7 linked regions of the Homo sapiens genome follow. The protein of the gene in region 7 purifies or fractionates together with the protein of the main gene of each other region. This does not show direct contact. Each region holds a gene or a part of one and is shown on either strand. Other genes may lie near its edges. The genes, in order: DNAJC1, XPO5, VTI1A, STX5, GOSR1, GAS6 and CLEC12A.

What was found.
Region 1: the proteins of CLEC12A (region 7) and DNAJC1 purify together in Homo sapiens (affinity purification with mass spectrometry; 4 studies listed by BioGRID and IntAct, with this or other methods). This does not show direct contact.
Region 2: the proteins of CLEC12A (region 7) and XPO5 purify together in Homo sapiens (affinity purification with mass spectrometry; 4 studies listed by BioGRID and IntAct, with this or other methods). This does not show direct contact.
Region 3: the proteins of CLEC12A (region 7) and VTI1A purify together in Homo sapiens (affinity purification with mass spectrometry; 3 studies listed by BioGRID and IntAct, with this or other methods). This does not show direct contact.
Region 4: the proteins of CLEC12A (region 7) and STX5 purify together in Homo sapiens (affinity purification with mass spectrometry; 3 studies listed by BioGRID and IntAct, with this or other methods). This does not show direct contact.
Region 5: the proteins of CLEC12A (region 7) and GOSR1 purify together in Homo sapiens (affinity purification with mass spectrometry; 3 studies listed by BioGRID and IntAct, with this or other methods). This does not show direct contact.
Region 6: the proteins of CLEC12A (region 7) and GAS6 purify together in Homo sapiens (affinity purification with mass spectrometry; 3 studies listed by BioGRID and IntAct, with this or other methods). This does not show direct contact.

The regions. Positions count from the first base shown.
Region 1 is NC_000010.11:22,000,767-22,005,681, reverse strand, and holds the start of DNAJC1 (dnaJ homolog subfamily C member 1 precursor), read left to right. Parts: upstream 1-1,951; 5' UTR 1,952-2,247; coding exon 2,248-2,469; intron 2,470-4,915. UniProt on the Homo sapiens protein: May modulate protein synthesis.
Region 2 is NC_000006.12:43,572,691-43,577,503, forward strand, and holds the start of XPO5 (exportin-5), read right to left. Parts: upstream 3,349-4,813; 5' UTR 3,175-3,348; coding exon 3,070-3,174; intron 912-3,069; coding exon 790-911; intron 1-789. UniProt on the Homo sapiens protein: Mediates the nuclear export of proteins bearing a double-stranded RNA binding domain (dsRBD) and double-stranded RNAs (cargos). XPO5 in the nucleus binds cooperatively to the RNA and to the GTPase Ran in its active GTP-bound form.
Region 3 is NC_000010.11:112,666,857-112,671,133, reverse strand, and holds part of VTI1A (vesicle transport through interaction with t-SNAREs homolog 1A), read right to left. Parts: intron 2,917-4,277; coding exon 2,846-2,916; intron 2,198-2,845; coding exon 2,136-2,197; coding exon of another isoform or gene 2,132-2,135; exon of another isoform or gene 2,125-2,131; intron 1-2,124. UniProt on the Homo sapiens protein: V-SNARE that mediates vesicle transport pathways through interactions with t-SNAREs on the target membrane. These interactions are proposed to mediate aspects of the specificity of vesicle trafficking and to promote fusion of the lipid bilayers.
Region 4 is NC_000011.10:62,810,969-62,815,245, forward strand, and holds part of STX5 (syntaxin-5), read right to left. Parts: intron 1-4,277. UniProt on the Homo sapiens protein: Mediates endoplasmic reticulum to Golgi transport.
Region 5 is NC_000017.11:30,487,239-30,491,515, reverse strand, and holds part of GOSR1 (Golgi SNAP receptor complex member 1), read right to left. Parts: intron 1,391-4,277; coding exon 1,299-1,390; intron 1-1,298. UniProt on the Homo sapiens protein: Involved in transport from the ER to the Golgi apparatus as well as in intra-Golgi transport. It belongs to a super-family of proteins called t-SNAREs or soluble NSF (N-ethylmaleimide-sensitive factor) attachment protein receptor.
Region 6 is NC_000013.11:113,853,764-113,858,040, reverse strand, and holds part of GAS6 (growth arrest-specific protein 6 precursor), read left to right. Parts: intron 1-4,277. UniProt on the Homo sapiens protein: Ligand for tyrosine-protein kinase receptors AXL, TYRO3 and MER whose signaling is implicated in cell growth and survival, cell adhesion and cell migration.
Region 7 is NC_000012.12:9,973,797-9,978,073, reverse strand, and holds part of CLEC12A (C-type lectin domain family 12 member A), read right to left. Parts: intron 1-4,277. UniProt on the Homo sapiens protein: Myeloid inhibitory C-type lectin receptor that acts as a negative regulator of myeloid cell activation. Myeloid cell inhibition is required to limit proinflammatory pathways and protect against excessive inflammation.

The sequences.
Region 1 (4,915 bases), on a different chromosome or scaffold from region 7:
AAAACTGGCTATATGTTTGGGGCTCCTCTATATTTCCAATCCATTTCACAGCTCACATGATGGTTAAACATCTCACTGGTTTCTCTTTTTCTGTGTAAACTCCCTCTGCCCAGGCCAAGCTGGATGAGTCTATGCCCAGAATTAGTACATGTCACCAGGGAAGAAAACAGTGGATACTGTCACTCCCTTAGTTCAGACCTCAGCAAAAGATTTATTCAATTGCACTGTAATTTTTGGGACAATGACTGAATAGGTAAAGAGGCCAAGCTAGAAGTCTAAATATGAATATCACTGTGGTCTTTGCAGGAACCTGGACAAGCAAGAAGATCATCTCAGGGTGGACAAGTGTCATTGGAGCTGGGCAGCATGAATTTTTGAGTAATACCTTATGTCCATGAGAAGTATTATTAATAGAATCCAATTCTGTTTCAGCATGGCCTTAGAAAGAGGATGGGCTATCTTTAGATGGAGTAAGTCCCCGAGGTTCTCAGACAACATAAAGGTAAAACTCAAAAGGGAAATACTAGGCTGTCTGCTACAAGATCGGGGTAAGAATCCCAGATTTGTGGCAATATGGCACCAGTTTCAAAGGTTTTATTGCACTTAATCTAATGATCAAATTAGGAGAAAAGATGAATGTTACTATAATATGTAAAAGTAGTGCTTAAGATCATTAATTTCATCTTATTTCGATGTTTTGTTCATTGAATAAACAGTAACCTAATTTAGGGACTTGGTAAAGATGACGTTCACTTTAAGAAAACTGATATAACCAAAAATAAACTAGGCTGGGGGTGGTGGCTCATGCCTGTAATCCCAGCAGTTTGGGAGGCTGAGGTGGGTAGATCACATCATGTGAGGTCAGGAGTTTGAGACCAATCTGGCCTACACGGTGAAACCCCGTCTCTACTAAAAATACAAAAAATTAGCCAGGCATGGTGGCAGGAGTCTGTAATCCTAGCTACTCGGGAGGCTGAGCCAGGAGAATTGCTTGAACGTGGGAGGCAGAGGTTGCAGTGAGCCGAGATGGTGTCATTGCACTCCAGCCTGTGCAACAAGAGCAAAACTCCGTCTCTAAATAAATAAATAAATAAACTAAAAATCTGTGGTAGGGGGAATGGTGGTAGGGAGGTAGTCACAGGATTCAGTTCAACTAATTGAGTGCTCTCATGTGCTATGCATTGTGCTAAGCACACAATAATAAAGTCCACACAAGAGAATTGTGGTGGAGAAAATAACTTGAAAAGAGCTTGAACAGAAGCAATGCAAGACTAGAAGGTGAGACATTGTTATGGGAGAGGAGGTTTTTAGCCTGTCTTTTAAAACAGAAACATCTCAATTGAGGTCTGTTTTCAAAGGAACCCCAACTGGAGGTGGGCTAAGGTGGATAAACTACATTTCTCCTCCAACTATGATTGAGTCACCATTATTAACTGTTAATTCTACCAGGTCATTTTATGGTATTATGCCTGTAAATCTTAATTCATAATTAGAAGTATACTTTTTGTTTTGGTTTCAATTCCTTTTCTGCTCTACCTCTCTCTACTTACTAGATTTGCCCCTTTTAGAACCTGGTTCAACTTGTCCTGTCTTCTTTGCTGATGGACTAATTAAATGCATGGAAGCCATAATCAATTAATCAGGCTTCAAATATGCTTTTAGTGTTCGATAGCTAGGGGAGAGGAAGACAGTAGCTATTTCAGGGGAAGTCCACGTGGGGCGTTCCAGATGGACGCGAGATGGCTATAACCGTCCCTGTCTCTCAGCCCATGTGGGCGCAGGTACAGCTGCTCCGTGCGCGCCAGTGATTGAGAGGCATTTCACCCAGGCCCAGATCTGGGGCGCCAGGCGTCCAGGCTTCCGGCCACGCCCCCTTCCCGCGGTTGCTAGGAGACATGATGTCACCGGAAGCGAGGCCTGGGATAGGCTGAGGCGAAGGGAAGCCTCACCCACTGTGCAGCCCAGGCGCCGGGCGCTGCCTCTACAGCTGTGTGTAGGCCTGGGGGCGAGGGTCTTCGGAACGTAGCGCTGGCTGCGGCCCCGCCCGCCTACCCACCCGCCCGTCCGGCAGCCGGCTCCCGCCGCCTCCGCGCTCTGTCTGGGGCCAGCCACCTGGCGGGCCGCTCCGGTGCGCCTGCCCGCGCTTTTCACTGACAGGCGCTGTTCCCCACAGCCAGCGCCGCCCGCCACGTCCCAGCTCTCGGCCAACGGAGCTGCGCGGCGGGTGACCTTTCCGAGCCCAGCGCGATGACGGCTCCTTGCTCCCAGCCGGCGCAGCTTCCTGGACGCCGCCAGCTCGGGCTGGTGCCGTTCCCGCCGCCGCCGCCGCGGACGCCGCTGCTGTGGCTGCTGCTGCTGCTGCTGGCCGCCGTGGCGCCGGCGCGCGGCTGGGAGAGCGGAGACCTGGAGTTGTTTGACTTAGTGGAGGAGGTGCAGCTCAACTTCTACCAGTTCCTCGGGGTGCAGCAGGTAAGCAAGGAGGCGCGCGGGGCCGGGCGGAGAGGGGCCAGGGCAGGCGTCAGGCGACCCGGTTCCTCAGAGACAGCCGGACACGTAGGGCAGGGCTTGGTCACCCCGGGCTCTGGCTGCCCTCAGCTCGGGTCACCGGGGTCCTCAGCCTTGGAAGGACGTGTCCGTCTTCCCCAGATCTTTACTCCTGCTTCAACTTTTCTAGTCCCAGCCCCAGTGACAGGCTGGACGGCGCCACTAGCCTAGGGTGGCGATGCCTTCTCTCTGCTCCGGCGTTCTGGGGAAGAGCCTTCCCCCTCCAGCTGTGCTGGAGGAAGAACGAAGAGTGGTGTGGGTAGACTTTTTTTTTTTTTTAATTTAACACCTACCTTTTGCCTTCCTGTCCCCCTGAATGTGAGAAAGAGCAGCCGCTTCTCACCCTAAACTGTCATCTTCCACCGATACTTACCTCATCCTTATTCTTATTTCAGCTGCCTCCCCTCCTCTTCCCTTCTGGGAAAGTAGGAATGCACTGTGGCCAGTGTCTGTGTTGCAAAAGTTTTTCTTACTTTGTACTTCGTCATCTTTTTAGCCTGTTAGGTAGATGTTTGTTTCGCTTTCGCAGTTTAGAAATCTGGAGGAATTTGAAGCGTCTAACCAGGTTGGAGGTGTTAAGTTTTTTGAGCAGCAAAGGACTTGGGATGCGATTGGAAGAGAAGCCCCCGGTCAGTAATGTAGGAATGGGTTTTTTTTTCCCCTTTTCCTTTTGTTTCATTTCGTTTTCTTCTATAGCTTAAGACATTAACTTGTAAAATCCATTTGTTGCTTTTTAGTTCTACCATTGAGGGTGGTTGAGTGAGGGTAGATATCCAGTCTCTACCTGAAGCCTTGTGCGAAGGAGAAGATAACATTTCGCTGATTTCAGGCTTATGGGGTGAAAAATGTACACTTCACACGATCTGATTGAGCCCTTCGTACAATGCTTTGAATAGTTATGGGAGTAAAAAATTAATGTTTACGATAGTTGCCATTCAAGGCACACTTCACATGACTAGATATGAAATGCACATCCCCTTCCCCCATAGGTTATCATAAATGTGGGTGAACTATTGAACTTTTACTGAATTTTAATTTTCAGACATTGCATTTTCATTCCATCAGTGAATATAAAATTGCTGGGTTGCCAGGGTACCATGAGTGAAACAATTTTTTATTTTTGTAAGAGTTATAAAGTATAGGCATTTCACACTTCAGATTCATATGTGCAAGCAACTTTGTAATAACTATATTTATGATCTGTTGCCTGGTGCCCCTCCCTGCTTATAGATACACTATATATCTCATTTTCAAAGCAAATGATGGAGTATGTGTAAAAATAATTAGTGAAGCTCTGATGACTTTTAAGAACTACTTTAATACTGGGAATAATTAGAATTTATCATTGATTACATTCTGTACGTAAAGAGAGTCTTAAACATAATCTATCCAGAAATCTTGAAGATCCAGTTATTCATGAAAAATTAAGTGCCTTTAAGAGAACAGAAATTTAGTAGCAGTTTAAAATTTAGATCATGTAATCTAGCTTTGCATGTGAACACTCATAGAATTTTCATTTATAATTTCATGTAACTTGATTTGCATAGTTAATTAGGCAGTGTGAACAACCAGAGCACTTGACTCTCTGGGCAAAGATGAGAAAATAAAGAAGCATAGATAATCAAGAAGATTCTTTGTCAAGGTAGAATCCGAAAAGAAGGATCCAGAAAATTGTTTTAACCTGTGTTTCTCTATCCAGCTGTATTAAAATTGGAAAGAATGCCAGGAGGAATTTTATTCTGTCCAAGCAGAGAAACTGAATGGAACAAGTTTTTTTCTTTACATTGAATCTTAACTTTGTTAGATGACTTTCAGGGACCAGAAATTTGGTGGAGACAAATGCAACCTGTCCAGGGTCTTTCATGTGTAGTTTTCAAGCCAGAGCCATTTGGTGACTAGCCAAACATGAGGGACCAGAACAAAGTAGGTAGGCTGCTGAAAGTGGTGACCTGGCTCTGTGCACTAATCTCTTCTTGTTCACGCAACAGAGATTTGTTTGGTGCCTATTGGATTTTAAGCATTGGGAGTTGACCTTTATATAAAACAAAACCCCTAAGCTTATAATTCAGTAGGGAGAAACAGACAGTAAACAGCCAAGTAAGTAAATATAAATGTTATATGGTCAGAGCAGGCCTCTGAGAGAAGTTAGGGAGTAAGCCATGTGGGTAATTGTTGTGTTGTAGGCCATTTGGGCTGCCATAGCAAAATGCCATGAACTGGACAGCTTTTCAACAGGAGAACTTGATTTCTCACAATTCTGGAGGCTGGGAAATCCAAGATTAAGGCACCGGCAGATTCTGTGTCTGGTGAGGGCCTTCTGGTCATAGATGGCACCTTCTTGCTGTGTCCTCACATGGTGGTACGGGCAGGG
Region 2 (4,813 bases), on a different chromosome or scaffold from region 7:
TACTTTTGATTTTGTACCTGTCAATGAATGGGCAAAAATGATCTACATTTAACCAAAATACTAACACAAAAATTCTTGGGAAAAGGTTTTATATATGCAGTGGTCCATTAACTGGAATCCGCACAAGATTTGTACCACACGTCAGCTTTGCCTCATGATTTTATTGATGGGCCAAAAGTGAATATACATCTAGGTCAACTGCAACAATGTACTTGCTTTTCAGAAAATGCAGTTTTGACATCAGTCATTTTCTGTGCTGGCTTACAAAACAATTCTGGAAAAACTATGGCTAAGTCTTAAAGGCTACCTCTTCTGATAGGTGTTGAGGGTAGGACAATCAAGTTAGGATGGGTTTTCAGTTATTCTCATACAATCCTGCTTTGGATGTACCACCCAGAGAAGGCACACAAACTCAGAAAGACAGAGAGAAAAAAGAAAGCCACAGTGCCTAATCAGAGATTCATTGACCTATACATTGCATTACTCTAAAAAGGCTTCGAGGGCTAATGACATATAGTCAGAGCTCAGTAAGTATTGGCTAAATGGCAGGTAATATTTGTTGAATGGGTAATATGTACCACACACTTTACATGGATGAAGAAACTGAAGAAAAGAAAGGTTAAATCTTGAATGAGAGCTCCTGTGAGGTTCTGATAACATCTAGGGGATCATTCCTCTCTTCTTGGAGATTGCTCTTCTCTACTCACCTAAACAGCATCTCTATAGGTTATATAAGATATAAAGATCTGTTCTCTCAGACTTCAGTGGTAATGTCCAAGAGCTCCTTACTTGACAACGTGTTCCAGGATCTGAAGGCCAAAATGTCTGACGATGGCAACTTGTGTTTTCTCAGCCAACCTCAAGCCACAGGGGACACAGATAGGACACTTTTCTTTAAACTCCTCACAAAACTGAAAGAAGAAAAGTTAGTGTTTCCTTTCGAGGGCTGAGAGAATAGGGACTAAAAGAATTTCATCTTAAGAAACTCCAACCAGGGCCGGGTGCGGTGGCTCACACCTGTCCCAGCACTCTGGGAGGCTGAGATGGGTGGACTACTTGAGTCTAGGAGTCTGAGACTAGCCTAGGCAACATGGCGAAACCCCATCTCTATTAAATATATATATATATATATATTTTTTTTTTTTTTTTTTGAGACGGAGTCTCACTCTGTCGCCCAGGCTGGAATGCAATGGCATGATCTCGGCTCACTGCAACCTCTGCTTCCCAGGTTCAAGCAGTTCTCCTGCCTCAGCCTCCTGAGCCCATGTAGCTGGGACTACAAGTGCACGCCACCACACCCAGCTAATTTTTGTATTTTTAGTAGAAACAAGGTTTCATCATGTTGACCAGGCTGGTCTTGAACTCCTGACCTCAGGTGACCCACCTGCCTTGGCCTCCCAAAGTGCTGGGATTACAGGCGTGAGCCACTGTGCCCGGCCCACTAAAAATATTTTTTTAAATTAGCCGGGCATGGTGGCAGGTGCCTGTAATCCCAGCTACTCAGGAGGCTGAAGTGGTAGGAGAATCACTTGAGCTCGAGAAATCAAGGCTGAAGTGAGCCGAGATCTCACCACTGCACGCCAGCCTGGACAACCAGAGTGAGACCCTACTCAAAAAGAAACTCCAACCTAAGCTATATGTTTAAAGTTGCAAAACCTAGATCAATATTATGTGGATCTCCAAGCACAGTTGCTTTAAAAATATATATTTAATATAAAAATAAAAATATAAAATATATAAAAGTTACACATATATAACATTTCCTCCAAGTGGTGTTCACTCTATTTTATGTGTATATATTATATATATATTATGAATAAAGAACTGATAAACATTCCTTCCAGCGTGATGGTTCCAGATTTTTTCCATGCTACGGCCAACAGTAGCCCTACTAGTGTTGGAAAAAAATGGACACAAAGGAATAAGAAATTATTTGTTAGAGACATCCCCCTGACGTACATAGGGGTGAAATAACAATTTCTAGGGTTTCTTTTAAAAACCTTCGAGGCAGGGAGAGAGGATAGGCGGTGGAAAAAGTAAATGCGGTAAAATCTTTGATTGCTGAATTTAGGTGACAGGAACATGCAGAATCACTGTCGTATTCTCTCCACTTTTGTGTCTATTTTAAATATTAATAATAAAAACCAAACTAATGGAACCCAATTGTTTCTGATTCCAAACCCTGTGGCAGACATCTACATATTGTAACATTTCCTCCAAGTGGTGGTCACTCTCTTTTTTGAAGTTAACATCACTTTAAAAATGTACAGCACAAGTATTTTCTCCTAAATGGCCATTTCTCACAGCCCACACACGTTGTTTTATGGGCAAGTAAGCTTGAATTGTATTAACACCCCCAAACTGCAACATAAGTCAGTCCCAAGAGCAGAGCATTCGGGTCTCACGCAAACTACTTTCAGGAAACCAAAGTGCCCTTGTTAAAATGCAAAGTAAGTGGTAGAAGTTATCTTTGCGCAAAATAGCCTAAAAATATTACACTCAAAAACATGGGAGAAGTAGGGGTGCGAGAATTTCCCCGGAAAATGTCCAAGACACAAACGAAAGTTAGCGAGATGTTAAAGCATATAAGCATAAGGGTACCAGAGGGGCTGGAGCTCGGTCAGGGCCAGGGGAGTGGGCCAGCAGGAAAACGTTTAGTGCAGGAGAGACCATAAAGAACGAAGCTGGTGTTGGGGGCGGGATCTACACGTGCGCCTCGGGAAGGCGAGGGGATGTCGGGCTTGGGGAATGAAAATGGGCGAGGGTCATGTTGCGGACAAGAGTGCACAGAAGCGAGGAAAGGGGGAGGAGAGGGCTGTGGGAAGCTGCGGCGAGATGAGAAGCAGCATAGGGACCGGAGTGTCCCAGGCAAAGGACAGGAGCGGCGAGTAGAGAAGGCGGCGATTTGGGAGAGGCGCGGAGGGCCGCGAGGGGAAGGTCCCGGGGAGTTGGGAAAGGAGGTCCAGGGGCCGCGTGGGCGGGAGACTACCCCAGTTACAGGCGGCGCCGGAGCTGCTGGGGCTGGGAGAGGGTGTCGGGACCGGCCCAGGACGCCAGGACCCCAGCTACCTTGAGGGCTTCCAGCCGGTAGCGCTGGGTGGAGTTGGGGTCCATCATGACCGTCACCGCTTTCACCAGCTGCTCGCACAGCGCGTTTACTTGATCCATCGCCATGCCTAGCGCCACGCGCCGAGAGCGCACACCACTGCAGTCCCGGGACCACGAGGCACGACAGCTCCCTCGGCGAGACCACCCGTTGGTACCGGGCCGCGGCGGGCGGCGGGGGTGGGAAGCTGGAGGAGGAGCGTTAGCAGCAACTCGCGCTGGGAAGAAGCCGGCGCTGCGCACGCGCCCGGCCCGCCACTGCGCACGCGCCCGCGGAAGTGGCGGCTCCCGTGTGCAGGTTGAGCCTAGGTGGGCGGGGCGGGAGGCGGAAGGGCCGCGGTGCGCAGCCGCGTCAACGGCCCTTCGCAGCGGGCGCGCTGTCAGACCTCAGTCTGGCGGCTGCATTGCTGGGCGCGCCGCTCTCGTCTGATCCCTGCTGGGGACGGTTGCCCGGGCAGGATCCTTTACGATCCCTTCTCGGTTTCTCCGTCGTCACAGGGAATAAATCTCGCTCGAAACTCACTGGACCGCTCCTAGAAAGGCGAAAAGATATTCAGGAGCCCTTCCATTTTCCTTCCAGTAGGCACCGAACCCAGCATTTTCGGCAACCGCTGCTGGCAGTTTTGCCAGGTGTTTGTTACCTTGGTAAGAAAATTTAGAACCGTTCGCTGTCACTGTGTTCAGACTTTCTATGTTGCCTTGGCTATTGGTTTTATAATGTAGCAGTGACTGGGCCAAGGTTGCGTGAAATATAAATCATGCTAACAGGGATAAGGCCCTGGTACTGTCTTCTAAGATTTTTCTTGTAGAAAAAAGTATGTTTTTCCCTGTAGTTGTTAAACCTCTCTCTTGGAATTACTTTCCTGGATGTATTATTACCTGGTGGGCACTAAACTTGTTTTGTGCGGATTGGGGTAACTCGAGATGTTTAAAGGGAATAATTGCAATCAGTGAAGGTTTGTGCAGTTTTGATAATTGGCCAAGTGCTATGTATAAGGTTTCAAAGTAGTGTAATCCTTATCCAAAAGCATGGCTTGGGCAGAAAGTCTTCTTCATTTTCCATCTTTATAAAGCTCTTGGCCGGGCGCGGTGGCTCACGCCTGTAATCCCAGCACTTTGGGAGGCGGAGGCGGGCGGATCACCTGAGGTCAGGAGTTCGAGACCAGCCTCACCAACATGGTGAAACCCCGTTTCTACTAAACATACAAAAATTATGTTTGCATTTTTAGTATTTTTATACAGGCGTGGCGGTGCGCGCCTGTAATCCCAGCTACTCGGGAGGCTGAGGTGGGAGAATCGCTTGAACCCGGGAGGCGGAGGTTCAGTGAGCCGAGATCGCGCCTTTGCACTCCAGCCTGGGCGACAGAGCGAAACTCCGTCTCAAAAATAAATAAATAAAGCTCTTGCTTTCTCCAGTAAATACATAAACGGAAAACCTCAACAGCTTTATTATCTGTTAAAGTCTGCATGTCTGTTTTTGTGATTGTGTGCTTAGTAAATTGTGTGCTGAACATAAATCACTGCTTCCTATTCTTGCTCCACTTCTGGTATTTGGATCTAATATGGTGCTTAGCCTGTGTTTTTTTGTGTTACAATACTATTTGTTGGCTCAGTCTGTTCCAGTACTACTGAAAAGCCACTTCAAAGTAGAGGGACTTCTGGCATGTTATAGTTTTAACTTGTAAATGTTTAAAGTATCACATTCTGC
Region 3 (4,277 bases), on a different chromosome or scaffold from region 7:
TTCTCTAGAGAGAGCTTTTCCATGAGATAACCAAAATAATGAAGCAGAGAGGTTGGCAAAATGTTTGTGCCTTTTCAAGTCCAAAATACATTGTATATCATACGCGGCAGTAATTAGAAACTAAAACCACTGCATTTGGTCCCCAGAAAACCTGCCACGTTATGGCATTGGTTGAAAATATCTGAATATCCTGGCTGATACCAAGATCCCAGCTGTGCCTAGTGAAAAACATTGTCATGCATATGAACAGGTGGACTTAAGCATACCCTTGGTTCAGATGTAGCAAGGTGATGTCCATCTGGGAATTTTTATTTCTGTTCATACTCTAGACACATCCCAAAAGAAGATGAGTCAGTGATTGACTGAGTTTGCCTACAAAGAGAACCCCATGTAGATTTCACCAGAGTAATTTTCTTCCGTAGGCTTCTGAAACAACCACGTTATTATGATTTCCCTACAGAAAGCCCAGTCAAAGGTTGCAGAAGTTGTTTGTGCTTCACCCTCTCTAAATGACTTGCAAATTTATTCAAACACAATATGAGAAGATGCTTTATTTGTTGAAATAACTGTCTGCAGTGTCCCGCACTAAAGGGTGAGGTAGATCAAGCAGAAACATGGACAGAAATACATTGGTTTCGAAACCCATAAATCCTTATTTGAATCTGCCAACCTGAAAGCCACGTAGAGCCCGCATAAACTATTTTTCCTAAATGCTACATCTGATTAAGCCATACCATTAAATGACAGCTGAACTTTAACATTAATATGATATTATTTAAATAACCACATCATTTTTTTTACACTAAAAATGATGAATGATTTCTGGACAGCTCAATTGACATAAAGCAGGAGGACTCTTTAATGAGATTTGACAAAATGGAGACATATGCAGAATATTCGTTACAGCTCACGACGCAGGAGCCCTCCCAGGGAAGCAACAGAGGTTTTTCCCTCCCCTTCCTTTCTTTTTTATTGTCTATAGGCACTGAAGCATTCCTTTCAATTGCTACTACCCTTCTCTCTGAATTCTGAGTTTTTCTTAGGCCATTTACATAGTACTCTTAATCACAGAATTTGATGGCTTATGATTCTGAGTTGGGAGTCGGGTTCAAGGAAATGAGGGGAAATGTCACATTATACTAGCCTTGGCTGGAAATGTCCCAGGAACTTTAGGCTTGCTACTGGTCAGGCTGCTTAGAAAATGTTATCAGCCTTGAAGACCAAACCACTAGACATTTGATTGGTTCTTATGCAATAAGTCTGTAACACGGCAAACATACTTTTAGCAAACTATTGTATATGGATATGTGATCAGACAAGACTTTAGTTATTTTTAGATGGTTGTCTCTATAGTATCAACTATAAAGATTTCCTTCTTAAAAATTCCAGTTAAGCCATTCCAGAGGCCATTCTCAATGTTTCTCGTTCACTTTTCTATCCACAGTTCCAAACTGACAGTCGTGCTAGATGATATTTTTATGTGGTAGATTCTGAATGTGAAATAATTTCGTGCTGAATGTACTTATAAGAACATTACCTACATTCATTCATCTATTTTCTCATACTATTTAGCATATTTTCCATCAATCAAGGTAGAGTTACACATATAAAACATGAACATTTGTTTCTTAGCACATATTATTCAGATAATCTTGACGTTTTATAAATCATCTTTAAGTATATACATAAAACGGAAATGTTTCCCCAAACAGCGTCACTTAAAGAAATGAAAACAAGGCAACAGAGAGCAAAGCTAATGGCAAATGTGCTCCTGAAAATGGTAGGTCTGCATTCCCTCCATAAGAAGAAGGCCATCGAAATAGAAAATAAAATCAGCCTGCTGCTGCCCATGGGGCCTTCCTCAGGCTATGAAAAAATACTTCATGTCTAACCCTAATTTTTTCCATAGCTTGAGGTTACCCCCCTAGCTCAAGCCTTCTCTCTAATCTGTGTTAGTATGTGTCCCTGTCCAAACAAGAGTTAACATCAGTGCTCTGTTATTTCAAATGGGTCCTGCACAGGGTACTAAGAGCAGAAGCTCAAAAGCATGTAATATGCCCCATTGCAATTGAATGAAAACATAGTATTTTAAAAAAACACACAGAGAGAAAGATATGTCCCTACCTTGCTCTTACCTTCGCAACATCCCTGTCAGAATCCTGGAGCTTTTTCCCAAATTAGCATCTGTTTCCCGAAGCTACAAGAAGAAACAAAACAAAACAGAAGTTCATGCAATTAGATTATTTCTAAAGTGCATGGCAAGCGACAATTTATTTCATGATAGAAAATCCAAACAATAAAAATGTTCAAATACACAAAAATAAATACATTCTGACAGCTACACAAACTTGGAAAATTCTTAAATTTGGAGAATGACACGTGAGAGGTAATCTTGGGAGCTTTAAGCTGGATACTAGAACTGGACATAAAAGCAAAGCACAGGCTGAAAAAGTTTCATATACATTTGGTAATTCATCTCCAGCTTATGAATGTGCAAAGTCCTAAAAACATATAAACAAAAATAAAATGAAGTGAGGAAAGATGACCACCAATAATTCTATAGTTTTCACTCTAAAAGATGAACATACTCCAAAATCTCCCTCAGTGACCTTCTCCTCTATAAGAAGTAAATAAAATACCTACCTGGGAACATTCTGGAATGGGGACATAGAGTCAGCTGCTATTTGCTCCATCTCACCCTCTTCCTTTTCCTTTCCACAGACCTTATACCCTCTTTCACCTTACACACATATATCTACCTAATTGCTATTGTTTATGTCCCAATGCCTTTCATTTATGTCTTCATTTACTGAATATGTGAAAAAACTGTATCAATTGTACTTACTCTTTCACGTGCTCGCTGTATCTTTTCTCTGTCATGACTAAGGTTTTCCAACATCTCCTGACCAATTTGCTCTACGGAAAAGAAAATTTGAGTGAGGAAAAATGACTTGGAGTGCATATGAGAGTAAATCTCAGAAATACTAAAATGGCATAAAATGTTAAAGTTGCATGCATGCATTATACATCAGACACATATTTCAATTCATGTATTTGAAAAATATAAACAGTATTTGATAAATTTATCTATTTATCTTAGGCATAATTAGATATTTGACCTATAGAACATAACCAACATGAAAATAATGATTTAGAGATGATGTCTTGTCCAGGCCACTCCAGCAAATATCAGCAAAGGTGGAGAAGATCTGAGGTCCATTAGTCTATTTTGTCATCATGGAATTTAGCTGTTGGTTTTTACAGGTTACTAGTAATGTTAATGATTCTGCTCTCCCTTTCCCCTTTCATTTTGCATATGTATGTCAGACTCCATTTAGAACAATTTTAATTTTAGTGTATTCACCCTGCATAAGTAATCCTCATATGCTCACCTACTGTAGCTTATTGGTAGTGAACTATCTCTAGGCTTTTGCTCTCTTCAAGGCAAGGGCTCATTTAACGTGTTACCAGTGGCTGTAGGTACTTGAGTCAACTCAAGGTGAGGTGCATTTCTTCTCAAGTAGTTGAAGAGAGCTCATGCTGGAGACAGTGTTTTCACCCCAGAACTTTGAAACCCTTATACTGTTATAGGCAATTTAGAACATTCTTTAAAAAGTCACATTGCTGAGTTCTAATGAGGTTTTCTCTTGCCATGATCATCTTATTTGGTTGACACTAGGCAGTCTCTTCTCCAGCCGTAGACCCTTTTAGAAGACAGTAGGTATGGCTTGACATCATAAATAACCAGCTGCCTTGAATAAATCGTTTTCAGACTCATTCCCCATTACCTGGGAGGTGCCTTACTCCATACTAGAAGGATGCCTCTCTTATAATCTTGGCAATATCTGACTACCTTGTTCTACATCTCTCTCTCCTTTTCCCTCTTGCATTGTCTCTTTACTCATACCTATAACAACAATCATCTCTGGCTTATAAACATATAAGCATTCAAACAAGCATCTATTATAATAATAACAAGTAATTTAATGATGTTAGTAAGAAGTCACCATGGTAGTTATTTGGCTCATATATGCACACTGCTAGACTTTTTTTTTTAAAGGACACCCTAAAAATATAGAGCAGTAGTTAGGCCACATTGAGAGCTTTGGCTGTGAACTCACACTGCCTGACCCAAAATCCCAGTGCTGGCCCTTACTAGCTGTGTGGCTAACTTCACTGTGCCTCAGTTTATCCATAAATGGGTACAATAATAATAATAGTACTATATCATGAGATTGTTGTAAGAGTTCAATAAGGTAATTCAGTTACAATATTTA
Region 4 (4,277 bases), on a different chromosome or scaffold from region 7:
TCCTTACCTCGAACTTTCTTTCTCAGGAGCAAGGAGAAATAACCACTCCTTAAAATTCTTCTATCCCAAGTTCTAAGGACACATTTCTCTCTCTGCTTTCTTCTCTCATCTTCCTCAACCTTCCTCCTCAGTCTGGCCAGATTCTTCCCTTCTCTACATACCCCCTGACTCCATGGGGGATCTGTCCTGACCTTTTTTTCACTTTACCCAGTCTCTGGGTGGTCTATGCCCAGGGTTTCACCAAGAGGCCACTGTCCTAAGTCCTTACCTCTAGCACTGCCTTCTCTTCCAAACATCAGAACATGAAATGCCTACTAAACTCTGTCATTTAGCTGTCCCATGAAGTCTGAGGCACTCAGCACACCCAGAACAAACCTAATTCTCACCCAGCATCAATCCGCTTGCTTCTTCTTATGTTCTCTCCCTGACACCAAATTTCTTGCTGTGACACACAGGTTATCTGTGACCTGGCCTTGCCTCTCACCACTCCCCCAGCCATGCTGAATAATTCTGCACTCCTGTATCTACCAAGTTCTTTCTCATTTCTGTGCTGTTTTTTCCTCACATGGAACAGCTTCTCCTTTCCCCTTTTTGGGCTGGCATTCCCTCCAAGTCTTAGCTTGGTATCACTTCTGGGAAGGCCCCTTGGCCCCATCTAGGAGCAGTACCTACTCTGAGTTCTCTCATCCCTTTTTTTTTTTTTTTAATAGACACGGGGTCTCTGTGTTGCACAGGCTTTCTTGAACTGCTGGCCTCAAGTAATCTGCCTCGGCCTCCCAAAGTGCTAGGATTACAGGGATGAGCCACCACACCCAGCCTCATCCCCTTCTCTTCTTGCCCTATCATACTGAGCTGTCACTGTCAACTTATGTCTCTCCTACTAGTGAGCTCCAGGAGGACCAGAATGGTCTTTCACCCTTTTATCCTCAGACCCAGCAGGATTAGCTCACAGCAGCAACAAATGTTTGCTAAACCAATGAGCAAACACATGCTAACAGTGAAAAATACTTATGACACTGTTTCAAGGAAGACTAGAATGTAAAGTTGCCTATATGCTATAACTTTATTTTAGATGTATATGGATTGAGGAAAGAACTCAAATACCTTTTTTTTTTTTTTTTTTTTTGAGATGGAGTTTTGCTCTTGTTGCCCAGGCTGGAGTGCAATGGTGCGATCTCAGCTCACAGCAACCTCCGCCTCCCGGGTTCAAACCATTCTCCTGCCTCAGCCTCCAGAGTAGCTGGGATTACAGGCATGCGCCACCATGCCTGGCTAATTTTGTATTTTTAGTAGAGACAGGGTTTCTCCATGTTGGTCAGGCTGGTTTCAAACTCTGGACCTCAGGTGGTCCGCCCGCCTCGGCCTCCCAAAGTGCTGGGATTACAGGCATGAGCCACTGCGCCTGGCCCTCCATATCTTTTATAATTCTGTTTCACTGACTCTATAATATTCTTTTTTTTGGAAACGGTGTCTCACTCTGTTGCCCAGGTTGGAGTGCAGTGGCGTGTGGCGTGATCTGGGCTCACTGCAAGCTCCGCCTCCTGGGTTCACGCCATTCTCCTGCCTCAGCCTCCCTAGTAGCTGGGACTACAGGCGCCGGTCACCACACCCGGCTAATTTTTTTGTATTTTTTTTAGTAGAGATGGGGTTTCACCGTGTTAGCCAGGATGGTCTCGATCTCCTGACCTCGTGATTCGCCTGTCTCGCCTCCCAAAGAGCTGAGATTACAGGCGTGAGCCACCACGCCCAGACTTAATATTCTAATATTCAAAATACAACATAGCTCAGGGAGCTATGGTGTTTATGGCATAATTCTGCAAGGGGTTCCCTAGGTCTCAGCTGAAATAGATAAAAATCAATTAGGCCGGGTGCGGTGGCTCACGCCTGTAATCCCAGCACTTTGGGAGGCCGAGGTGGGCGGATCACGAGGTCTAGGAGTTCAAGACCAGCCTGGCCAATATGGTGACACCCCATCTCTACTAAAAATACAAAAATTATCCGGACATGGTGGCTCGTGCCTGTAGTCCCAGCTACTTGGGAGGCTGAGGCAGAAGAATCATTTGAACCCAGGAGGCGGAGGTTGCCACTGCACTCCAGCCTGGGTGGCAGAGTGAGACTCCGTCTCAAAAAAAAAAAAAAAAAAAATCAGTCAATTATTAGCCAGGCATGGTGGTGCATGCCTGTAATCCCAGCTACTCGGGAGGCTGAGGCAGGAGAATCACTTGAACCTGGGAGGAAGGGGTTGCAGTGAGCCAAGATAATGCCACTGCACTGCAGCCTGGGTGACAGAGTGAGACTGTCTCAAACAAACAACAACAAAAAAAATCAGTCAATTCTCCTGACTCTAGGATCAAGACAGCTGTACTCACGGTACCTTATAAATGGCTGGTGCTCAACATATAGTAGTTGAATAAACAAACTTTCTTTTAATCAGTAGTTCCCAAACCTGGATGCTCATCAGAACCCCCTATGGAATTTGTAAAAATGAAGCTCCCTGAAAAGCCCACTCCATTCACATCTCTCGAATCAGAATCTCCAAGTGTTTTCTTTTACCTTGGCCAGTTAAATGTGTGAGGCTGCTTAGTGGATTGATGTTCAGAAACCGGCTTTATACAAATGTAGGTGTTCACTCAGTTTCACATGATCAACAACGTAGAGTAAAAGCACTCTGCTAGATACCGTGGGGAATAAAGATCAATCAGGGTTGGACCCTGCTAAAGGGATAAGATCAAGTGGGCAGGAGTGGATTCCTAAAACCTCCTACACCTCCTCTCCTCTACTGGCTTTTCTTCTTAATGAGCTGAGAAGACTGAAGTGGTCTGAAGATAAATGCCGCTCCACCCCGAGCATTGCTACAATAGCCTCTGTCTTCCCACCTATCGCCAGCTCCTCTTAGAGCCAAGCCTTGATTTATGCCCCGGAGCCCACTTCCTTTCACCTTCTCAAGGACATCATTTCAAGAATTCTCCCATCTTTCTCCTATATTATCATTTTTAAATTTATCCGTTGCATCATTTCCATTGGCATGCTAACATACCTTTATTTTCTCTCAGCCTTTTAAACCCTCTAGGCTCCCACCAGACATATTTGGAACAACTTGAGCACTCACAATAATCATTGCCCTAACTAATAATAAGACAACCAATACATTAAAACCTATAATTAAAGCCTATAGCGATGCTCAGAAAAGAGGAAGAATTTAATTAATTTACTTGAGATGGAGTTTCGCTCTTGTTGCTCAGGATGAAGTGCAATGGCACAACCTTGGCTCATTGCAACCTCCACCTCCTGGGTTCAAGTGATTTTAGTGCCTCAGCCTCCCAAGTAGCTAGCATTACAGGCATGCACCACCACGCCCTAATTTTGTATTTTTGGCAGAGATGGGTTTCACCATGTTGATCAGCCTGGTCTCGAACTCCCGACCTTAGGTGATCCACCCACTTCTGCCTCCCAAAGTGCTGGGATTACAGGTGTGAGCCACCGCACCCGGGACTCTTCCTTTTTTTTTTTTTAGATAAGAGTCTCACTCTGTTGCCCAGGCTGGAGTGCAACGGCGTGATCTCGGCTCACCCAACTTCCGCCTCCCAGGTTCAAGAGATTCTCCTGCCTCAGCATGCCAAATAGTTGGGATTACAGGCAGGTGCCACCACGCTCAGCTAATTTTTTTTTTTTTTTTGAGATGGAGTTTCGCTCGTTGCCCAGGCTGGAGTGTAATGGCGCAATCTTGGCTCACCGCAACCGCTGCCTCCCGGGTTCAGGTGATTTTCCTGCATGCGCCACCACGCTCAGCAAATTTTGTGTTTTTAGTAGAAACGGGGTTGCTCCATGTTGGTCAGGCTGGTCTCCAGCTCCCGACCTCAGGTGATCCGCCTGCCTCGGCCTCCCAGAGTGCTGGGATTACAGGTGTGAGCCACTATGCCTGGCTTTCTGATTTAATATTTAAAAAGCTATTAAACAGTTTGGGGACAACTGGGAAAATGTAAACCCTCACTGGATATCACATATTAGGAAATAGTTAATTCTAACAGATAGGATAACTGGGTGTCTTTTTTTTTTTTGAGATGGAGTCTTGCTCTCTTGCCAGGCTGCAGTGCAGTGGTACGATCTCGGCTCACTGAAACCTACACCTCCCAGGTTCAAGCGATTCTCCTGCCTCAGCCTCCCGAGTAGCTGGGACTACAGGCACGCAGCACCACGCCCAGTTAATTTTTCTGTTTTCAGTAGAGATGGGGTTTCACCATGTTGGCCAAGATGGTCTTGATCTCTTGAGCTTGTGA
Region 5 (4,277 bases), on a different chromosome or scaffold from region 7:
AGCTAATTTTTTTATTTTTAGTAGAGACGGGGTTTCACCATGTTGGCCAGGCTGGTCTTGAACTCCTGGCCCCAAGTGATCCACCTGCCTCAGCCTCCCAAAGTGCTGGGATTACAGGCGGGAGCCACCACGCCTGGCCGGTCTTTTCATTTCTACCTTCTGCTGTGACTAACTCAGAGTTGATACTCAGGAGACAGTTTAATGAATAGATGAACATATCTTTTATGGCCATTTTTCAAAAAGCAAGTTATTACAATGGGTTGCATTCTAGTGATTCCCACAAATTATGGGGGGGCTCAGTGTCTATACATTAAAGACCATCCCCTATATGGGTTCCCAATGCATTCCTCAAAACATATATATAAATGGACTACATGGAAATTAAACAAAAGACTTAAATGTCCTGAAGGACTAAAAATATTACAACAATCTTACTGTTGAAACTGTTACTGTTACAATAAAATAAAGGATCTCTAGGAAAGTGTTTTCGAGAGTACACATAATATACAGTTTACCATAAATGTGTATCATAGTTTATAAAATGTATCACATAATTTATCACAAATGAGATGATGACAGGTATCATTAGATGGCTCCAAATTGGAACATCTTCAGCTTCAATGAGACGCCCATGGGACTTAACTTTGTCAGTAGTGTTCAGTTGTAAAAAAATTTCCAAAAATGCTATGAAATGCTAGAATAGATCATTAAAGGTGAGGTGAAGGGACAGAAGAAAAAAACAAATATTTAAAATTATAGATTGAGATCAGTATGAGAATGTTGGGAGTCCTTAAATAATTTAACATAAGGCTATGAGTGAGTTTGTACATATTACTGTTTGTAATATGTAACTGTTGGGACAAGGGAGAGGGCCAGGGGATAGGTGATAATCAGGAAGAGAAACATAGGGAGCTTCAGTTACTGATAATGTTACAATTAAAGAATTTTTTTTTCTTTGACACATCTGCAGAGGATCATAAAAGTAACATTATAATTCTTAGGGTGGGAGGTAAGAGATCAGAGAACCATGAAGAACCACCTAAGCTGGACTTTGAATTAAGACAGGAAAGTCAAGGTTGGCAGGAGCCAATGATAAAGTAAGAGGAAGCATGAGATAAAAATGGAAAAGTAGATTAGGATGACATTGTAGCAGCAATGTTAAAAAGACAGTGAAATGGGAATTGGAAACCCTAAAATCTCAACCACGGTTCTGCCACTCAATTTGCAATTAACCGTGAACATATCCTAAAGCCAAATCTGAATAAATATTCTACAAAATAATATAAAAAGTAACTTACTCAATATCTTTTCGTACTGATCCCATAAGATTCTCCCTTTCCCGTATTGCCATAAAGTTTGCTTTGGTTTTATGGAATTCATGTGTATAATCCTGTAATAAATCAACATCCAGTCTCAACAGAAGCTAATTATGGATTTTCATCTCACTGAACCAGTTATGTATCGTCATCACACTGTAAATTTGTCAAGAAAACTGCTATTTAAGAAATCAAATTAACCAAAGGTAAAAATAACTTTAAAATTACTTTCCTGAAGAGTGACCAACTTCTTTCAAGTGAAAATAATTCAGTGCTAGGGAAACAGTGCCATTAAATCACTATCCTTTGTACCTCCTAGTACTCTGTCTTACGAGGCAGAATTAAGAAGAAAAAAATTCTGAGATAAAATAACTTCAAATAGTCTAGGAGAAAACTTGAGAGGCTCTTTTTACTTAGTAGTATACTTAATAGAGCTTATTTTCAAATTTCATCATTTTGGAGCTCTCACAAAAAATTTAATTCCTAAACAAAAAAGAACAGAATCAAGAGAATTATAAGGAACAAAATAATCTTTAAACATTTTCTACTATTTTTGTACCACTGTTAAAAGTACTTCATTACTTTTCATAAATTCAGAGATGTAGATAAAGAAGAAAATCAAAATCTTGTCTCCCAGAGTCCCTGTTGACCTTTTAAAAAACAAAAGTAACACATAAACATGGAGGAGAATATTAAAAGAGCACCAAAAGAAATAAAGGTGAAACAAAGGAAAACAAAACATTCTGCTCCATACCTCATAACTGTTACCATCATTTTGTATTTTCTTCCAGGAAATTATTATTTTCTTTTTTTTTGGAGACAAGAGTCTTGCTCTGTCGCTCAGGCTGGAGTATAGTGGTGCCATCTCAGCTCACTGCAAACACCACTTCCTGGGTTCAAGCGATTCTAGTGCCTTGGCCTCCCTAGTACTGGGACTATAGGAGCGTGCCACTACATCCAGCTAATTTTTGTATTTTTAATAGAGATGGAGTTTCACCATGTTGGCCAGGCTGGTCTTGAACTCCTGACCTCAACAGTTCCACCCACACTGGCCTCCCAAAATGCTGGGATTACAGGCGTGAGCCACTGCACCTGGCCAGGAAATATGTTTTTACATATACAAGCTTATCTATTATTTCTTTCACTTTGCCAAGTAAGTCATAATATACATTCTGATGTACACCTTGCTTTTTGTACTTCATAAAGTATCAAGCAATCTTTCCATATTAGGAAAAAGAAATCTACATCATTCTTTTTAATAGCTGCATAGAATATTATCTTATGACTATCACAATTTAATAAATTCCCTACTGATAAACACATTAGTTGTTTTCATTTTGTTTGCTATTAAAAATACTGCAAGACTAGGCAGGGTGGCTCATGCCTGTAATCCCAGCACTTTGGGAGGCTGAGGTGGGCGGATCACTAGAGGTCAGGAGTTCGAGACCAGCTTGGCCAACATGGCGAAACCCCGTCTCTACTAAAAACACAAAACTTAGCCGGTGTGGTGGAACGCACCTGTAGTCCCAGCTACTTTGCTCAGGAGTTTGAGGCAGGAGAATCACTTGAACTTGGGAGGCAGAGGTTACAGTGAGTTGAGATCATACCACAGCACTCCAGCCTAGGCAACAGAGCGAGACTCTGTTTCAAAAAAAAAAAAAAAAAATACTGCCAATAAACATTCTTACATATATTTTTTAAACTGAACTCTTTTATTTTAAAAAAAACTATATTTAGGCTGGGCGCAGTGGCTCACGCCTGTAATCCCAACACTTTGGGAGGCCAAGGCAGGCGGATCATGAGGTCAGGAGATGGAGACCATCCTGGCTAACACGGTGAAACCCCATCTCTACTAAAAATACAAAAAAATAGCCGGGCATGGTGGCGAGCGCCTGGAGTCCCAGCTACTCGGGAGGCTGAGGCAGGAGAATGGTGTGAACCCGGGAGGCAGAGGTTGCAGTGAGCCAAGACCGCGCCACTGCACTCCAGCCTGGGTGACAGAGTGAGACTCTGTCTCAAAAAAAAAAAAAAAAAAGTATATTTAAAGAGTAAATGTCTATTAAGTTCAACAGAGCTTAAAAAAAAAAAAAAGGAGTAAATGACTAGCAATAGAATAATTGGATCAGGGCTGGGTACGGTGGCTCATGCCTGTAATCCCAGCACTTTGGGAGGCCGAGGTGGGTGGATCATGACATCAGGAGTTCAAGACCAGCTTGATCAATATGATGAAACCCCATCTCTACTAAAAATACAAAAATTAGCTGGGCGTGGTGGCGCACACCTGTAGTTCCTGCTACTCGGGAGGCCGAGGCAGAAGAATCGCTTGAACCCAGGACGTGGAGGCTGCAGTGAGCCGAGATCGCACCATTGCACTCCAATACTCCAGCCTGGACAACAGAGCGAGACTCCGTCTCAAGAAAAAAAAAAAAGAATAACTGGATCAAAGAATCTCACATTCATTTAAATTCTGGTAGTGCTAAACTGCCTTCTATAAACATTACATCAATTTATGTTCCCACCAGCAATATATGAGTACCCTTTTTAAATTTTTACTCTTGCCAATAATGGGTTATAAATGTTTCAACATTTGCTAATCTGACATGTGAAAAATCACCTCTTTTAGATTTCTGTATTTTTATTTGGAAATACTGCTGAAAATGTTTTTATAGTTTTGGCCATTCATTTTTTTGTAAGCAATTTTATATCCTTTGTCCATTTTCCTACTGTCTTTTTCTTATTTCTATTATATCTCTGTGTAGTAAGCAAATTAGCCATTCGTTATGGTTTCCAGTATCAAGTCTTATTTAGAAAGTCCTTTCTGCTCCAAAGTTTACAAATTTCACCTCTGCTTTATGGTTTCTTTTTCTATCCTTCTTGGATCCATTTGGAATTTGTTCTGGATGTGAGGATTGAGATAGAATTGTTTTTTTAAAATCTCTGAATAATTAAGCAATGGTTATA
Region 6 (4,277 bases), on a different chromosome or scaffold from region 7:
GCCGGAGCCCTGTGGCCAAGGCCTTTCCTCCTGGGCCCATCCTGAGGCCTGCAGGTGGACCCCGGCCCGGCCTCCTCTGAGGGCCGTCTTCCGTGCTGGCTCCGCAGCCCTCTCCTGTGCCCGCACCTGTGCAGATGCTTGTTTTCACCCGGGCGTCTGCAGGCACTTGGTGCCAGGCTCCTCCGGGGCTTTCTCAGAGGCAGCCGAGTGCCAGGCCCTGCACACGACACCCTCACCCGAGCCGGAGAGCTTCACATCTGTGGAAAACTCTAATTAAAGACGTTTTGAGAAACGCTGAACGTCTCCCTTTGTTATTTAGGAACAAAACACTCTTTTAGGAAGCAAGTGCTTATGGCTTCTTTCTTGAGATTCTGAGTAAAGGGGCGTTAAGCTTGCTAGCTGGGGCATGCTGAGCACTTCCCAGGTTATGGCTTTACCCCAGAGCGATTGACAGGCATCCAGGTTTCCTCATGCTTCATTTTCCCCTGTTTTCTAAGGTTAAAACTGAGAGCTGTTTCTCCAATGCAAAGCTGCTTGTTTAAGGGTTTCGTATTTGATGTTGGAAATGCTCTGGACTCTTCCATGGTTTTTATATTCCAGTGATTTCACTGCAAACCTGGTGTGTACGCCTTGTAAATTTTGACCCTGGCCAAGTGAAAGGTTCATTTTAAAAGTTTTAAAATAAATTTTAAAGGGGAGCTGGAAGTGGAATAAGTTAAGAACAGTATCAGTTTTGCCTTTCACTCTGACAGAGGCACTCTCTGCTCTGACTGACGGGTGTTGATTAAAAGTATAATATTCAAAAGAAATAGTAAAGTGCATTGGGCCTTGTTAATGTTCTACTAATTTTCTGGGGCTCCGTTTTCAAATTATAGGTGAAATTTTTTTCCTTCCAGTGTTAGTGCCTATGATAAGAAAATACATTTTCTCCACATCTGTCCACAAACCTGCTAGACCCTGTTTTGTGACTACCTCCCCTTGGAACTTGGGGCTCCATGGAAAACACACAGCTTGACCCAGCCAGCCCTCAGAGAGCCTGGGCCGGTCACTGCAGTGGCTGGATTCTCAGCATAAAAAGGCCAAACGTTCGGCCAGGCTGGGACTGGCTCCCATCCAGGACCAACTGTCCACAGTACAGTAAGGCCACTCTCTGAGTCAACATTGTTTCTTTTCTGAATTGCTAAGTTGACCGTCCCTGCAGAAGCAGAGAGGGCTGCGGTGTGGCATTCCTGCCCACTCCAAATGAGGGCAGCCCGGACGCGGGAGCTCTCAGGGAGGCGCAGTGGGCTTTGGGTGTGTCTGGACTGTCTCCACCACACCTGGAAGATACTGTTCACTTCCTTTTTACACTTGTGGGAAATACATGACAGTGTTTACGGGCAGGCTGGCTTTCCGTTTATTTCAACCCTGACAATTGAATAGCAGCAGCAGATGATGAAACTGTTCACTTCCCGATCACTCCCGTTCTCAGATCCATCACTTAGCTCGTCCGTCGCTCAGCTCGTCTGTTAGTCTGAAAGATGAATCGTGCACGGGTCCTCCTGAGAGTGCTGTTCTCGGGGTCTCCATGTGTGAAGTTGTTACATCCTCATGACAACTGTGTAACAGCTGTCACTGAGCCATTTTACAGATGTGGAAACTGAGGCCCTGAGAGGCTGTGGAGGGCTACAGTGTGTCCTGGGCATTTGAGCCCCACACTCTGTCATTAACTCCTGTGCTCGCTGGGACTGGGGGAGAGCAGGACGCGGCAGCACCCCCGGCCCCACTGTGTGCTCCTCTGTGTGCAGGCGACTGTGAGCATACTGGCACCCATGTGAGGGCTGAGTGGTGCTGGTGTGGGCGCATAAAGCACAGGGCGGCTGCGGGGAGCTGGGTGTGTGTCAGTGGCTCGGAGCATTAGTCTCGTGAACATGGTCTGCCAGGTGCGTCATGCTGGGCTACAGAGCCCATGGCTCCACCATAAATGGTGGTTTTGTGTTTGAACTTGAGTGTTGCTGCTCAGTGAGGCCAGAGGAAGGCACCAACCTGCAGGCCTGGCCGGTCCTCACAACACGGAAGGCAACCAGTCCACTAGAGAGACATGTGTCCCGGCCACTGGAGGAGTCCAAGTGACCTTTAAGTCTCACCAGTCCTCAGAGCAACCCAGGTGAATTTGGGGCCTGAGCTTGGTCGTCTGGCCGAAGACCAGCTCAACTTGGATAAAGCTGGAGGAGAAGCCTGTCCCTCAGGCAGCTGCCAGGGCATCTGTGATTTCTGCTTGCGTGCACTCTTGGCGACTATTGGTGGTGGTCGCAGTCAGGGCATCTGGTTGCCTTTACTGTCCTTACACCAGCTGGGCAGAGCTCAGGCTGGGAGCCCAGTGGGAGAGGCCGGGGCGTGACTCCCGGCGCAGAAGCGGCAGTGGCACACCGGCGTCCCAAGCACAGCTGTCCCTGCCAGGCCCCTGCGCGTTGGATCTTTGGGTTGAGTCATGCTCGATGGTGCAGCCATCCTTTCAAGGGAACTGAGCTGTCCAGCGTCCCATGGAGCAGCTCCCCGTGGATCCGGAGAGGCCGTAAATAAACCTCCCCATTTGTAAGCCGGGAACACACATGAACTTTGCAATCGTGTTTGTCCTGGGATCATAGAACGTGGTGGCTGGCAAGACCCAGGCATCCTCATCCTGTGCTGCTGTGAACAGAGGCCGGTAGCTTATTGAGGGACCAGTCCCAGTTCGCTTTCTGTGGGGAAGACTCTGATGGAAGCCTAGGCCCCAAACTCCAAGGTTAGCACATCTTCTTGGGGGGATTGACACCTCCAAAGGTGAACTTGGGTCCAAGGCACGTGTGTGCGACCTGAAGCATGGGTGCCGTGTGCAGGAGACGCCCTCACCGGAGATGGGGACCGAGTCCACACGGCTCTAACTGCAGAATCACTGGCCCTGTGCCCACGACTATTTTATTTTGCTGTTTTATATGATCACAAAGTACACTGTCTTGTTTTTCCCAAAGCATTTGCAGTGAGACATCCCACTTCCTCTCCACGGCAGCTGTTGCGGGCACGAGGCTGCTCCCAGGACAGCGATGCCACCGGGGCTGGGGTGGGCACGGAGGAACCCTCTTCCTTCCTCCTCCCCGCCCTCTGCTCCCCCACAGACTGGCCTGTCTTTAGTCAGCACTTTCCCAGGCTCCCTTCTGCCCACCACGTGCAAACAGTGGCGTGTCCTGGGCCTCTCTCCTTGTAGTGTTTCTTGTGGCCAGCATCCCTCCCATCCAACAGCTGTGTGGCTTCCTGACTGGCTTCTCTCAGGGCCCGCAAGGATGCTGCCAAATGGCCAGAGACAGTCACTGCTCTGCACTTCAAAGCAGGCAGCCCTCGGTGGGGCTTGCCCTGAAAGACAGCGGGCCTTCCTCGATGAGAGCCTGTGCTGGCTCAGGGCCTGTGGGGGCTGCAGCTCTGTTCCTTCCCTGCGTCCACGCTCACATGCTGAATGTTGTGCACCACAGGACACCCTGCTGGGGGCTGTCGGGAGCATGCTCTGTGTTTGGGGCAGAGACGGGCAGAGTGAGTCTCAGCATTACTGCCGTGCAGGGTTGAGTCTCAGCATGACTTCCATGCAGGGGGAGTCTCGGCGTCACTGCCATGCGGGGCGAGTCTCGGCGTTACCGCCGTGCAGCTGCTGGAAGCCACTCGAGCTCCTCTGTCTCGTTTGCCATGAAGCCCATGAGAGACACTGATGTGTGTCTCGGGGCTTCTGTGAGAAGAGCTTGGTTACCCACCGGGTCAGGCACCACGTCGGTGCTGTGAGGCATGGAGGGTGCTCACAGCTGTGCAGTCAGCTACAGAGGCCTTTCCCAGCATCCACATCTGACCGGGCAGTCACACCAGGATGAGCTCCCAGGAAGAGGGCTCCCAGCAAGGGAGGGCGCACCTGGGTGTGAGCTTGGAGGAGGGCAGAGGCACCTGTCACCGCTGACCCTGGGTGCAGATGGGCATGCCGGGTATACTGACTGTGCTTTCCTGGGGCCTGTCTCCCTCCAGGTCAGCCTGGGGTCCTCTGGGCTGGGGGCCATGCACTGCCTCCTGTGGGCAGTGGGATCAGCACTTCCACTTTGCTCAGGGCTAGAGCAGGCTGCTGCGGGTGTGAAGACTTAGGAAACGAATTCGGAAGGAAGGAAAGGATTTTGCACTTCCCAAGCTAGAAGAACATGAATAGAGCCGGGCTGCCAGGCCAAGGGTCTGTAAGACGGCGGCTCTTCAGAGAGTCTGCAAATGCTGAGAAAGGAAGGCTCCCCAAG
Region 7 (4,277 bases):
AGACAATTACTAATAAATAGTAAAACTTAACTTATATAGACTTTAGAAAATAGTTACTACTGAAAGAACTACATGTTCAAGATTTTATCTAAGATTAGAATTATAAATGCCAGTGCTATCTTTCTTAAAATTATTTTCTTATTTATATGTGTATTCAATTATTCAAGTTTATTTATTCAATGAACTTATTCAATTATTAAAAAGTTCAATTATTCAAAAGTTATCTTTTGAGTGCCTTGTATTTATTAGACATTATCCTGGGTGCTAACAATATCAAAGTGAGCAAGATGTACAAGTTCCTGTTTTCACAGCTATAAATTTTAATTGTAGGAGGAAATAGATAAATAGATATATAAGTGAGACAGGGAGAAAGAAAGAAAGGGAGAAAAGATCTCAAATTTGGCGATGTTGTGCAGAGATTTAAAACTAAGCTGTTATAGAGAGCAGGCAGTTCAAATCTTATGAATAGGAACCAGCATGCAAAATAAGTAGGAAGAACATTACAGGTAGCAATTACATGAAGTTCAAAGACAATAATTTAAGGAAAAGATTTCTATTTGAAAAACAGAATATATTCAGAGGGGCAGAAGAATTGTGGCCAATGTGAAAAATGATGTTAAAGGTTTTATTTGTTTTCTTTTGTTTTGTTTTTAAAATAACAAGGAGGAGACATTATTTACAGCCTTTTCTAGCCAGAATAAGTTAGATTTTTGGGGAAACCACTGGAAGAATTTAATCTAGGAGGGCAAAATAACAGAGTTGTTTTATCAGTAAGAAATCTGTTACAGTATGACATGTGAAAGAGAACAGAAGTTTGACTAGCTAGTACTAGGGAATTTGATGACCCATGGATAAATTAAGTATACATTTCTAAGCTAAAATCTATTGCAAAAATTTCTGAAATTTTTCTTTAGAGAAAGTTGGTAGATATGCACATTTGTAGGCAGTATCTCATAGTGATAAAAAGCAAAACACCATCTTTAGGGTTAGCATGTGTATTAGTCCATTTTCACATTGCTAATAAGACATACCCAAGACTGGGCAATTTATAAGGAAAGAGAGGTTTAATGGATTCACAGTTTCACGCGGCTGGGGAGGCCTCACAATCATGGTGGAAGGTGAAAGGCACACCTCATATGGCAGCAGACAAGAGAAGAAAGAACTTGTGCAGGGAAACTCCCCTTTATAAAACCATCAGATCTCATGACACTTATTCACTATCACAGGAACAGCACGAGAAACACCCCTACCATATGATTCAATTACCTCCCACGAGGTCCCTCCAACAACACGTGGAAATTGTGGGAGCTATAATTCAAGATGAGATTTGGGTGTGGACACAGCCAAACCATATCATTCCACCCTGACCTCTCCCAAATCTCATGTCTCACATTTCAAAACCAATCATGCCTTCCCAACAGTCCCCAAAAGACTTAACTCATTTCATCATTAACTCAAAAGTCCACAGTCCATCTGAGACAAGGCAAGTCCCTTCCACCTATGAGCCAGTAAATTCAAAAGAAAGTTAGTTACTTCCTAGATACAATGAGAGTACAGGCATTGGATAAATACGGTCATTCCAAATGGGAGAAATTGGCCAAAACAAAGGGGCTACAGGCCCCATGCAAGTCCAAAGGGCACCAAATCTTAAAGCTCCAAAATCATCTCCTTTGGCTCTATATCTCACATCCAGGTCATGCTGATGCAAGAGGTAGGCTCCCATGTCTTTGGGCAGCTCTGCTCCTGTGGCTTTGCAAGGTACAGTCTCCCTCATGGCTGCTTTCATGGGCTGATATTGAGTGTCTGCAGCTTTTCCAAGTGGACAGTGCATGCTGTCAGTGGATCTACCATTCTGAGAGCTGGAGGACGGTGGTCCACTTCTCACTGCTCCACTGGACAGTACCCCAGTGGGGACTCTGTGTGGAGCTTCTGACCTCACATTTCCCTTCTGCACTGTCCTAGCAGAGGTTATCCATGAGCACCCCATGCCTGCAGCAAACTTCTGCCTGGACATCCAGGCATTTCCATACATCCTCTGAAATCTAGACAGAGGTTCCCAAAACCCAACTCTTGACTTCTGTGCACTCAAAGGCTCAACACCACATGGAAGCTACCAAGGCTTGGGGTTTGCACCCTCTCCGAAGCCATGACCTGAGCTGTACCTTAGCCTCTTTTAGTCATGGCTGGAGCAGCTGGGATGCAGGGCACCAAGTTCCTAGACTGCACACAGCAGAGGGACCCTGGGCTCAGTCCATAATACCATTTATTCCTCCTAGGCCTCTGGGCATGTGATGGGAGGGGCTGCTGGGAAGACCTCTGATATGCCCTGGAGTCATTTTCCCCATTGCCTTGGCGATTATCATTTGGCTTCCCATGACTTTAGAAATTTCTTCAGCTGGCTTGAATTTCTCCTCAGAAAATGGGATTTTCTTTTATTTATCATTGTCAAGCCACAAATTTTCTGAACTTTTATGCTCTGCTTCCCTTATAAAACTGAATGCTTTTAACAGCACCCGAGTCACGTCTTTAATGCTTTGCTGCTTAGAAATTTCTTCTGCCAGATATCCTAAATCATCCCTCTCAAGTTCAATGTTCCACAAATTTCTAGGGCAGGAGCAAAATGCTACCAGTCACTTTGCTAAAACATAACAAGAGTCACCTTTGCTCCCGTTCCCAACAAATTCCTCATCTCCATCTGAGACCACCTCAGCCTTATCACCATTTTTGTCAAAGCCATTCAAGAAGTCTCTAGGAAGTGCCAAACTGTCCCACATTTTTCTGTCTTCTTCTGAGCCCTCCAAAGTATTCCAACCTCTGCCTGTTGCCCAGTCCCAAAGTCTCTTTCAGATTTTTGGGTATCTTTACAGCAGCGCCCTACTCTATTGGTACCAATTTACTGCATTAGTTCATTTTCACACGACTGATAAAGACATACCCACAACTGGGTAATTTATAAGTAAAAAGAGGTTTAATGGACTCATGGTTCCATGTGGCTGGAGAGGCCTCACACTCATGGTGGAAGGTGAAAGGCACATCTCACATGGCCACAGACAAGAGAGAACTTGTGCAGGAAAACTCCTCTTTATAAAACCATCAGATCTCATGAGACTTATTCACTATCACAAGAACAGCATGGGAAAAACCCGCTCCCATGATTCAATTACCTCCCACCATGTCCCTCCTACAGCATGTGGGACTTATGGGAGCTACAATTCAAGATGAGATTTGGGTGGAGACACAGTCAAACCATATCAGTATGTTTTGGTTTGAATTCTGGTTCTGCTGCTTATTGCTTGTGAAACCTCGGGAAAATTATTTAACACCTTTTAACATCTCTGTGTCTGAGTTTCAATATGGTTAAAGCATGGGAGACAGAAAGACTGCAAAGTATCAGACACTAAATAATTTAATATTTATAATGCAATTAGAACAGAACTGGCACAGAGAAAACACTTGAAAATTGTATTTAAATATATATTTATATGTGTATTTAATGAGATGAGGCTGTCTGGAGAGAGAGACAATTTTAGAAGAAAAATAAATATTACTATTTTTGACATTTTAAGTTTAAAATGAGATTAGAACTCCTTATGGAAATGTGAAAGTGGCACATGTATTTTCTAGTCTTGAGATTCAGGGAAAGGTCATACAGAGATATTGGGGAGTCACTCTATTTAAAGTCAAACAACTGAATGAGGTAGATTAGAAGAGTGTACTGAGTGATGCAATAAAACGGGACCCAGGACAGGGCTTCAGAGTATTCCATCTTGTAGAGTTTCATCTAGGAGGAGGAATCAACAAAGAATGAGGAGAGGCAGGCATGGTGACAGGAGAAGCCATGAGGATGTGTCAGGAGGGATGTGCAAAGAAAGCATTTAGAGGACTGTTCAACTTTTTCAATGCTGCAGGGAAGTGAAGTAATGGAAGAGACATGTGACTATTGGGATGAAACAGGCAGGACATCAGTGACCTAAAGCTCAGTCTCTATGGCACCAAGGGGGCAGAAGCCTAATAGAGTTGGTTGAGAACAGAATGAGAGGTGAAGAACTGAGAGTCAGTGGCCAAAGAAAATGCTTTCAAAAGTTGAGTTGTGAAAGGAAACAAAGAAGTTAAATAATAATGGAAAGGCTTAAGTGGTCAAGCAAGGATTGTGTTTTGTTATAAAAGGAGTAGCAGAGTATATTGGTGAGTAGTAGAGTATGTTGGTGCACCAAAAAGGAAAAGCAGAGAAGGAAGAGAGAATAATGACACAGGAGAGAAAGGAAAAAATTACGGAA